Homo sapiens: one gene and its partner. Changing the gene in region 2 together with the main gene of any one other region gives a genetic interaction. Each region holds a gene or a part of one and is shown on either strand. Other genes may lie near its edges.

The links.
Region 1: changes in PTPRE (region 2) and ITGB7 together harm fitness more than expected from each alone (negative genetic interaction), as found in Homo sapiens cells (one large-scale study listed by BioGRID).

Annotation. Positions count from the first base shown.
Region 1 is NC_000012.12:53,197,133-53,200,945, forward strand, and holds part of ITGB7 (integrin beta-7 isoform a precursor), read right to left. Parts: intron 3,322-3,813; exon of another isoform or gene 3,315-3,321; 5' UTR 3,312-3,314; coding exon 3,111-3,311; intron 820-3,110; coding exon 618-819; intron 532-617; coding exon 361-531; intron 1-360. UniProt on the Homo sapiens protein: Integrin ITGA4/ITGB7 (alpha-4/beta-7) (Peyer patches-specific homing receptor LPAM-1) is an adhesion molecule that mediates lymphocyte migration and homing to gut-associated lymphoid tissue (GALT).
Region 2 is NC_000010.11:127,909,852-127,913,664, forward strand, and holds part of PTPRE (receptor-type tyrosine-protein phosphatase epsilon isoform 1 precursor), read left to right. Parts: intron 1-3,813. UniProt on the Homo sapiens protein: Isoform 1 plays a critical role in signaling transduction pathways and phosphoprotein network topology in red blood cells. May play a role in osteoclast formation and function.

The DNA of each region.
Region 1 (3,813 bases), on a different chromosome or scaffold from region 2:
CACAGAATGTGGAGCCAGGGACAGTGGCATCTAGGTCTTGTCCAGGGAGACTTGCATCAGGGCAGGTTCCAGGTTGGTAGGCCCAGGGCAGCTGTCCAGGCCCAGAGAGTGCCTGAGCACAGTCTCTCCAGACGCTGGGTCTCAGGCCTGTAAAACGGATAGTCTCTTGAGTCCTCTCCAGCTCTGACCTAGAAGATGGGTGTCTAGGGAGAGATGCAGGAACGAACCTGTGGCCTGGCTAGGCCTGTCAACAACTGGGAGGGCAAGTTGGGGCCCTTGTGAGTCCAGGATGTTGGCAGAGGCTAGGGCAGTGGTTGAATAGGCAAGGGCTAACAGGGCGGGAGGCAGCGCTCGGCTCACCAATGCGCACAGAATGGGTGACTTCCTGCAGCCGGACCAGCAGAGCGTGCCCGAGCTGGCGCACGCGTTCCAGGTCGTCCTTCATGGAGTAGCTCAGGTCCATAAGGTAGTACAGGTCCACCGGGTATCCCTCAGCACGAAGGAAGCGGACCTGGAGCTGCTGGGGCTCCCCTAGGGGGTGGGCGGCGGGCGGGTCAGCAGAGCGCATTGGAACGCCAGCCTAGACCTCTGGCCTGGCCCCGCCTCCCCTAACTCACCAGGCCGCAGCGTGACCCGGACCCGCTGCGGCGCCAGCTGGGTGGCACCCTCTCCGCGGGCGCCCTGGCTGAGCGGCTGGTCCTGCAGCACCTCCTGCTGGCCGCGGGGCTCCTCCAGCTCCTCCAGCGGGCAGCCTCGAGCCAGCAGCTCCTCTCGTCGGGCGCAGCGCCGCGCCTCCGCCTCTCCCGACGCGGTGAAGTTCTGCTCAGCAAGAAAAGGCGCGTCGGGACCCGGTCCTGCATAGGCCCTGGGCCCCGCTCCCAAAAACACCCTGCAAACCCGGCCACCTCTAATGCCCCCACCTCCAGTCCACTCCTTGAGTCCCTGATTCCCTCCCCTCTTCCTCGCCACAGCTACCCTTGAACTCCGGTCTTTTTTGTTGTTTTGTTTTGTTTTTGAGACGGAGTCTCACTCTGTCACCCAGGCTGGAGTGCTGCGGTGCTATCTCCGCTCACTGCAACCTCCACCTCCCGGGTTCAAGTGATTCTCGTACCTCAGCCTCCCGGTAGCTGGGACTACAGGCATGTGCCACCACGCCCAGGTTTTTTGTATTTTTAGTAGAGACGGGATTTCCCCATATAGGTCAGGCTGGTCTCAAACTTTTGACCTCAAGTGCGCCCACCTCAGCCTCCCAAAGTGCTGGGATTACAGACGTGAACCACCACGCCTTTTTTTTTTTTCCTACTGTAAAGACAGGGTCTTGCTTTTTTGCCCAGTCTTGTTTCGAACTCCTGGCCCCAAGAAATCCTCCTGCCCCAGCCTCCCAAAGTACTGGGATTACAGGCATGAACCGCCACCGGTGGAACTCTGGTCCTTTCTTCCTTGTCAGAGCCCCACTTCCTATAGCAGTCCCCCACCCCTCCCCTATCTCAACTCCCCCTTGCCCCAGCCACCTACCCCTCTCCTCCCCAATAGAGTCACAGACTTCCTGTTGAGATCTTAGAGACTTCACTACCACAAAAAAACAGGGGCCTTGCCTCCTAGGCCAACCTCCCCAGCAAGCTCACACCAAAATGGGAAGGTGGTCAGACTAAGACCCACAGCTCCTTGGAAAGGAAAGGATAAGAACAGAAGAGGAGGCGTCCTCCCCACCAATATGTCTGGTATCCCTGGGACTGGTTGGGAAGCCACAGGGGAAGGAAATGGTTAGAGCGGCTTCTCAGCTGGCCCTAGGTGTCAGGAGACTGGAGAAGCCAGACACAGACCTGACCATCTCAAGAGCGCCAGCTCCCCAGCTCCAGCCTGGCACCTCTGCCTCTCTGCCTTGTGCAGACTCAGTATCTACCCTTCTTGTCCAGTCAGATTCACTGTGTGCCTTTCTCCTGGGTCCCTGTGTGCCTTTCTCCTGGGTCCTCTAAGCATCTGTAGCTCTGCTTCCATGTGAATTTGCCCCCATCTCTTATCTGGGCTCCCACACTGATCTAACCCTCCATCTTACACTGAGAGAGGCAGACCTGCCCCCATCCCAGCTTGGGCACCCCTCCTGCTCTGCTGCTCCATGAGTTCTGTCTCTTTAAAGCATAAACAAACAACAGCTTTGTTTGAAGAGCCAGGGAGACACCTGCTCCCTAGCATCCTTCTTGGCCACTTAGGTAGCTCAAGCCTTTCCAGTCCCCCTCAAGCCCATATGCTTCCACCCCTTCCCTTTCTACCTGTCCAGTCATAGGCTACTACACACCCAGGAACAGAATGCCTCCACCCAAAACACAGACTTAGAAATCTAACCACACACTTGCTGCTATGGACTGAACTCTGCACCCCTACCCCTCCCCACCCCCACCCCATCCTCTGTTGAAGCCCTAACCCTCCATGTGATGGTATTTGGAGATGGAGCCTTTGGGAGGTACCTAGGCTTAGATGAGGGCCTAAGGGTGGAACCCTCATGATGGAATTAGTGCGCTTACAAGAAGAGAGGCAGTTCCCACCCCCATCCCCCAACCCCATCCCCACTATGTGAGGACACAGCGAGAAGGTAGCCAGTCTGCAAGCAAGGAAGAGGGCCCTAACTGAGGAACCAAATCAGCCAGCACTTTGATCTTGGACTTCCCAGCTTCCAACATTAGGAGAAATGAATTCCTGTTGCTTAAACCACCCAGCTTATGGTATTTTGTTATGGCAGCCCGCACTGGGTAGTACCTTTCTCCCATGTTTACATACACAACAGCTCCCTCTACCTATACACAAGCATGAATTCCCACAAGCACATACTTTCTCCCAATTCATGGTCACAAATTCTCTCCATATATACACAAGCAAATGGATACAGACATAATCCTAAGTGCACAAGAAACTTGCATGCATGTGTATGCACACACGTATATCCACACACAGGAGTCCTATGTGCACAAACTCAGTCACACATGAGACTGTGGAGTGTTCCCAGAAAATCATACATGTGCCCACACAATCACACACATATATCCAGGCTGCACATACATATACACATACACATACACATACACATGGTTCAAAGACCATAGGCCCATCTTTACCAGTTGCTTGCACCATGCACAGCTGGGGTGTGAGAGGATGCACTTCTGGCAGGAGGGGGCTGGCTGGCAGGACCCCAGCATGGACAGGTGAGGATTCCGCCATTCTGTGGCATCCCCTGTGGATGGGATCTTGGCGTCCAATTCACTCTCACCTCTGCTCAGGACCAGCAGCAAAACAAGGACCATTGGCAAAGCCACCATGCCCTGTAATAGGATATAAAGGGGGACATGTGGGTCCTCAGGGAGGACTCTCAAACTCTCAGTCCTCTAAACTTAGCTTGTGGTTATCACTCTCAAAACTCTGCCCCAACACTTTATCTCCCCTCATAGTTTCACTTCCCCTGTGGATTCAGCAGTTTCTTCAAAATAATGGGAAGGAGCAGGTATCACGCAAAGGTAGGGGCCTCCGGACGTGGTGGCTCATGCCTGTTATCTCAGCACTTTAGGAAGCCAAGGTGGGTGGATCACCTGAGCTCAGGAATTCGAAACCAGCCTAGTCAACATGGCGAAACCCCATCTCTACTAAAAATACAAAAATTAGTCAGGCATGGTGGCGTGCACCTGTAATCCCAGTTACTCAGGAAGCTGAGGCAAGAGAATTGCTTGAACCAGGGAGGCGGAGGTTGTAGTGAGCCGAGATCACACCACTGCACACCAGCCTGGGTGACAAAGCAAGAATCTGTCTTAAAAAAAAAAAAAATAG
Region 2 (3,813 bases):
CACACATTTTTGCCGATGTGGATGGGCATGGTCCATCCAGGGCTCATGTGGCCAGCCCTTCTGGAGATGCTGGACTCACCTGCTAAAATGACTGCTGGCTTGGACCAGAGACACCCCAAGTGACCTCCCAGGGAGGCAGGCTTGGGAGCAGGGAGGGAACAGGATCGAAGCTGCCCCGTATTCCCTTGCTAGACAAGTCTTTTTCATTTATAACATTTGAGTCACCCTCACAGAAGTTCTGTTGCCAAAGCAGGAATGAATGTATCCATTAGGGTAAAGACTGGCCTTCTTAATATTTGAATATCACTTGGGAAGAAAACTACAGTTCTAAGAACATCTCTAGTTTTTCTTTTGGCTTTCTTCCTACTGACCCAATGGCTTTGTCTTCCATAAAGCTCCCAAAGCTTTCCAGATCCCAAGACTCAGCTCCCTGCTCTCAGCCTCCTTCCCCTTTATTTCCATCTTAGAAACTCCTACCCATACCTCAAGGCCCACCTCAAAAGTCTCAGTCTCCACAAAGCCTTCCTGGCTCCCCTACCTGAGAGGAATCTCTCTTACTCTTGGTTCCATAGAACGTTATTTCTGCCTGTCCTAAAGCACTTACTGGACTTGACTTTGATTTCCAGTTCACTTGCTCAAGTAGTTTATCTCCTCCACTAGGCAGCCAGTGCTTTAAGGGTGGAGGGTGTGTCTCTGAGAGCATGTACTTTGGGTTCAGTCAGTCAAGTTCTGACTCTGGTGTGACCTTGGCTAAATGACTCAAAATGCAGGCTTCAGTGTTCTCTAGAATGGGAGTAATCATCGCTACTTCCCAGGGCTGCTGCTGTGAGGGGGACATAGGATACATATAATTGACAGGCCGCTTGGCTGGTATGCAGTAAACTGTGGTTATCTTTCCCCTACAACATCTAATGCTGTGCATTGCACATGTAAGAATCAGTGAAGTTTGAGGCCGGGTGCAATGGTTCACACCTGTAATCCCAGCACTTTGGGAGGCTGAAGCACGCAGATCACTTGAGGCCAGGAATTCCAGACCGGCATAGGCAACATGATGGAACTCTGTACCAAAAACACAAAAAAATTAGATGGGCATGGTGGTGCACACCTGTAGTCCCAGCTACTCAGGAGGCTGAGGTGAGAGAAACATCTGAGCCTGGGAGGTCAGGGCTGCAGTGAGCCATGTTCACACAACTGCACTCCAGCCTGGTTGACAGAGAAAGACCCTGTCATGGAAAAAAAAAGAATCAATGAAGTTTGAATGAATACATGAACCAAGCCAAAAACCATACAAATAGATAGATACCTTTTGTGCATCATCCAGATCAGTAGGTCAAATCAGTGTGGTGTGGCATGCCAGATAATTTTTGCATGGCAATCTAAATGATTATTATGTAAATTTTGCGTGATTAAGTATTTTAATCCCATAATGTTATCACTTACCATGAAGGCATTCATTCTTCAATATGCACCATTGACTCCAGTGATCGATGAGGCAGAAATGCAACTTGCTGTGCACATTAACCAGGCTCGTGGCCTGAATTAAACCAGGCTGGGTGTGAGGCACTGCAAAAGCAAACGAAACCCACCCCTGAGAAGCAGTGTGGCCTAGAATCAGGTGTCTGGAATCAGGGTAAGAGAGCAGCTTCTAGACCAGAACATAAAGCTAGGAAGCTGTGGCCTACCCTAGAAACTCTCAGAACTTCACTTTGCTTATCCAAAGAAAGGGGCTGTCCTGGGCCATCTCTGGGCCCCTCACAGCTGCTGCACTTCCGCCCGATTTCACCCCTTCCCCACCACTGGGCAGGAAGGGCTGCTGACTCCGTACAAGGCTGGATCCCAGGCAGGGAGGCCTCCTGTTTCTTGGCTCAGCATTTGGGCCACGTGTCTCTCTGCTCTGGACACCAAATCTAGAGAGAGTGAGGAGAGGCCCGTGGGTACATGTAGCGTGCTGCCAATTTTAGGTACTGGCCCTAGACATATCAAGAGTTTATTTTGGAGGATTAACTTCTCATTATTTTGTCACTAGGATTTTTTTTTTTCACCAAAAGCAGAGTGCTGGATGATATTTTAGATGGCTGGGATTTTAGATCAGCCATACCTGAGGCAATAAGAGTTGGTCGAATGTTACCAATCCTTGAGCAGACACAGATGAGCAGTTGCGGGGTCGTTCGCTGCTGGATGTGGGCTAGGAGACCCCTGGTTTGGGGATTATGAAGGCAGCCTCCTTTTCTTCCCTGGGCTCTGGCTGCTGTTTTCCCAGTCATACCCATCATGGTCTGCCCTGTCCAGGTGTTCCATGTGGGGAGTATTGATGTGGTGCCCAGCCTTTGAACTGTTAACAACACCCTGCTCACAGCCAGAAATGTGGGCCCCACATCTTTCTTTCAACTGTATGAATACTTCAGAGGCTTTGATTGAGCTTAAGAAATACAAATTCTTAACAATATATTTCAGAAAAATAAACATATCCTTTTATATTGATTCCCAATGAAATAGGGGCCAGATAAAATATTTTAAAAGGGCATCTGTTTTTAAAAATATCTTTCAAATGCAATCAAGAATGTTCAGTTAATCCGGTCCATTATGTATATTGTAACAAGTAACAAAAGGGGCAGAGAAATCTTTCTCCCAAAAACAAATATAAAGTCCAGCAGGGAGTAGGGAAATGTTTGAAGAAAAAAAAAAGATTCTTAGTTATGTGCTAAAAACCAAACGTGTTTTGGGCAGGTGCTTTGATGTTAGTGTTTGTTGGGTGGAGAGTAAAGAATTGATAGGAAAACTTGTTTGGATCCCAGGTCTGGGTGCCAGCTACACTACATTTGATCCAATGGAAGGGCTAGCATGGGAACAATAGCATTTGGTGTGAGCGCCCTGGGCAGGTACATGACTCTGTCGTCAGCTCCCAGGGATGGACAGCCAGTCCCACAATGCCTGGAGCTCAGAGCTCACTCTGTGCATGTATGTGACATGGAGAGATGGATGGATGAAGGTAATAGAACTGAGTAGGAGCCTGTCCAGGTAGCAGTGGAGGAGGCCAAGTGGCGGAGGCCTTCCCTGCCATGATTTTACTCTGTCTGAATACCAGCAGCAAGTGGAAGCCACGGGGCTTTATTTTCAAGGGAGGTGACACAGCCTGGGGCTCAGGGAAAGGACTTAGGAGCAGAATGACTGGGATCAGATGGGGGCCCATGAGACTGAGGCTCTGGACAAGGCAAGGGACTTCCCCTGGCCCAGTGTGAGCCCAAGTCTTTACGGTGGGGAGCATGATGCCGCCAAGGCAGCTGCACGGGGATCGGTGGAGGTGGTACGCAGAGGCCTGGCCCCATGATCACCAAAGGGCCAGCGGTCTCACACAAGGCAAGGGCCCAGGGGACCGGAATCAAAGGCCTGAGATGATGTGAGCCCTGACTTCTCCTCTGCCACAGTCGCTTTGTCCTCAAGGCAAGTCATTTAATTCCTATTCAATAAATGCACAAACATAATTTTTGGTTATTAATGTCCCTAAATCTGTTTGGACATTTCCAGCTGAACATTAGTCACCAGTTTTGTACTAGAGAGAAAATTAGTTCCATCTTTCTTCTCAACTGAGATTTTTAAATGTCCTATCACATAGCTACTTGATTACAGTGTATTATTTTAAATGACCTCTGTACTAAGTCCTTTTATTTTGGCGTCCTCTCACTCCAGAAGGACTTGGCATTGGCATTTTTCAGGCTGTGTCTCCACAGTAGGACTTTCATAGGTCTGCGGTGCAGACTGGTTTGCTGTCCACAGGCTTGGCCCTGACTCCTCGGCTAACATGCACAAGGGCGC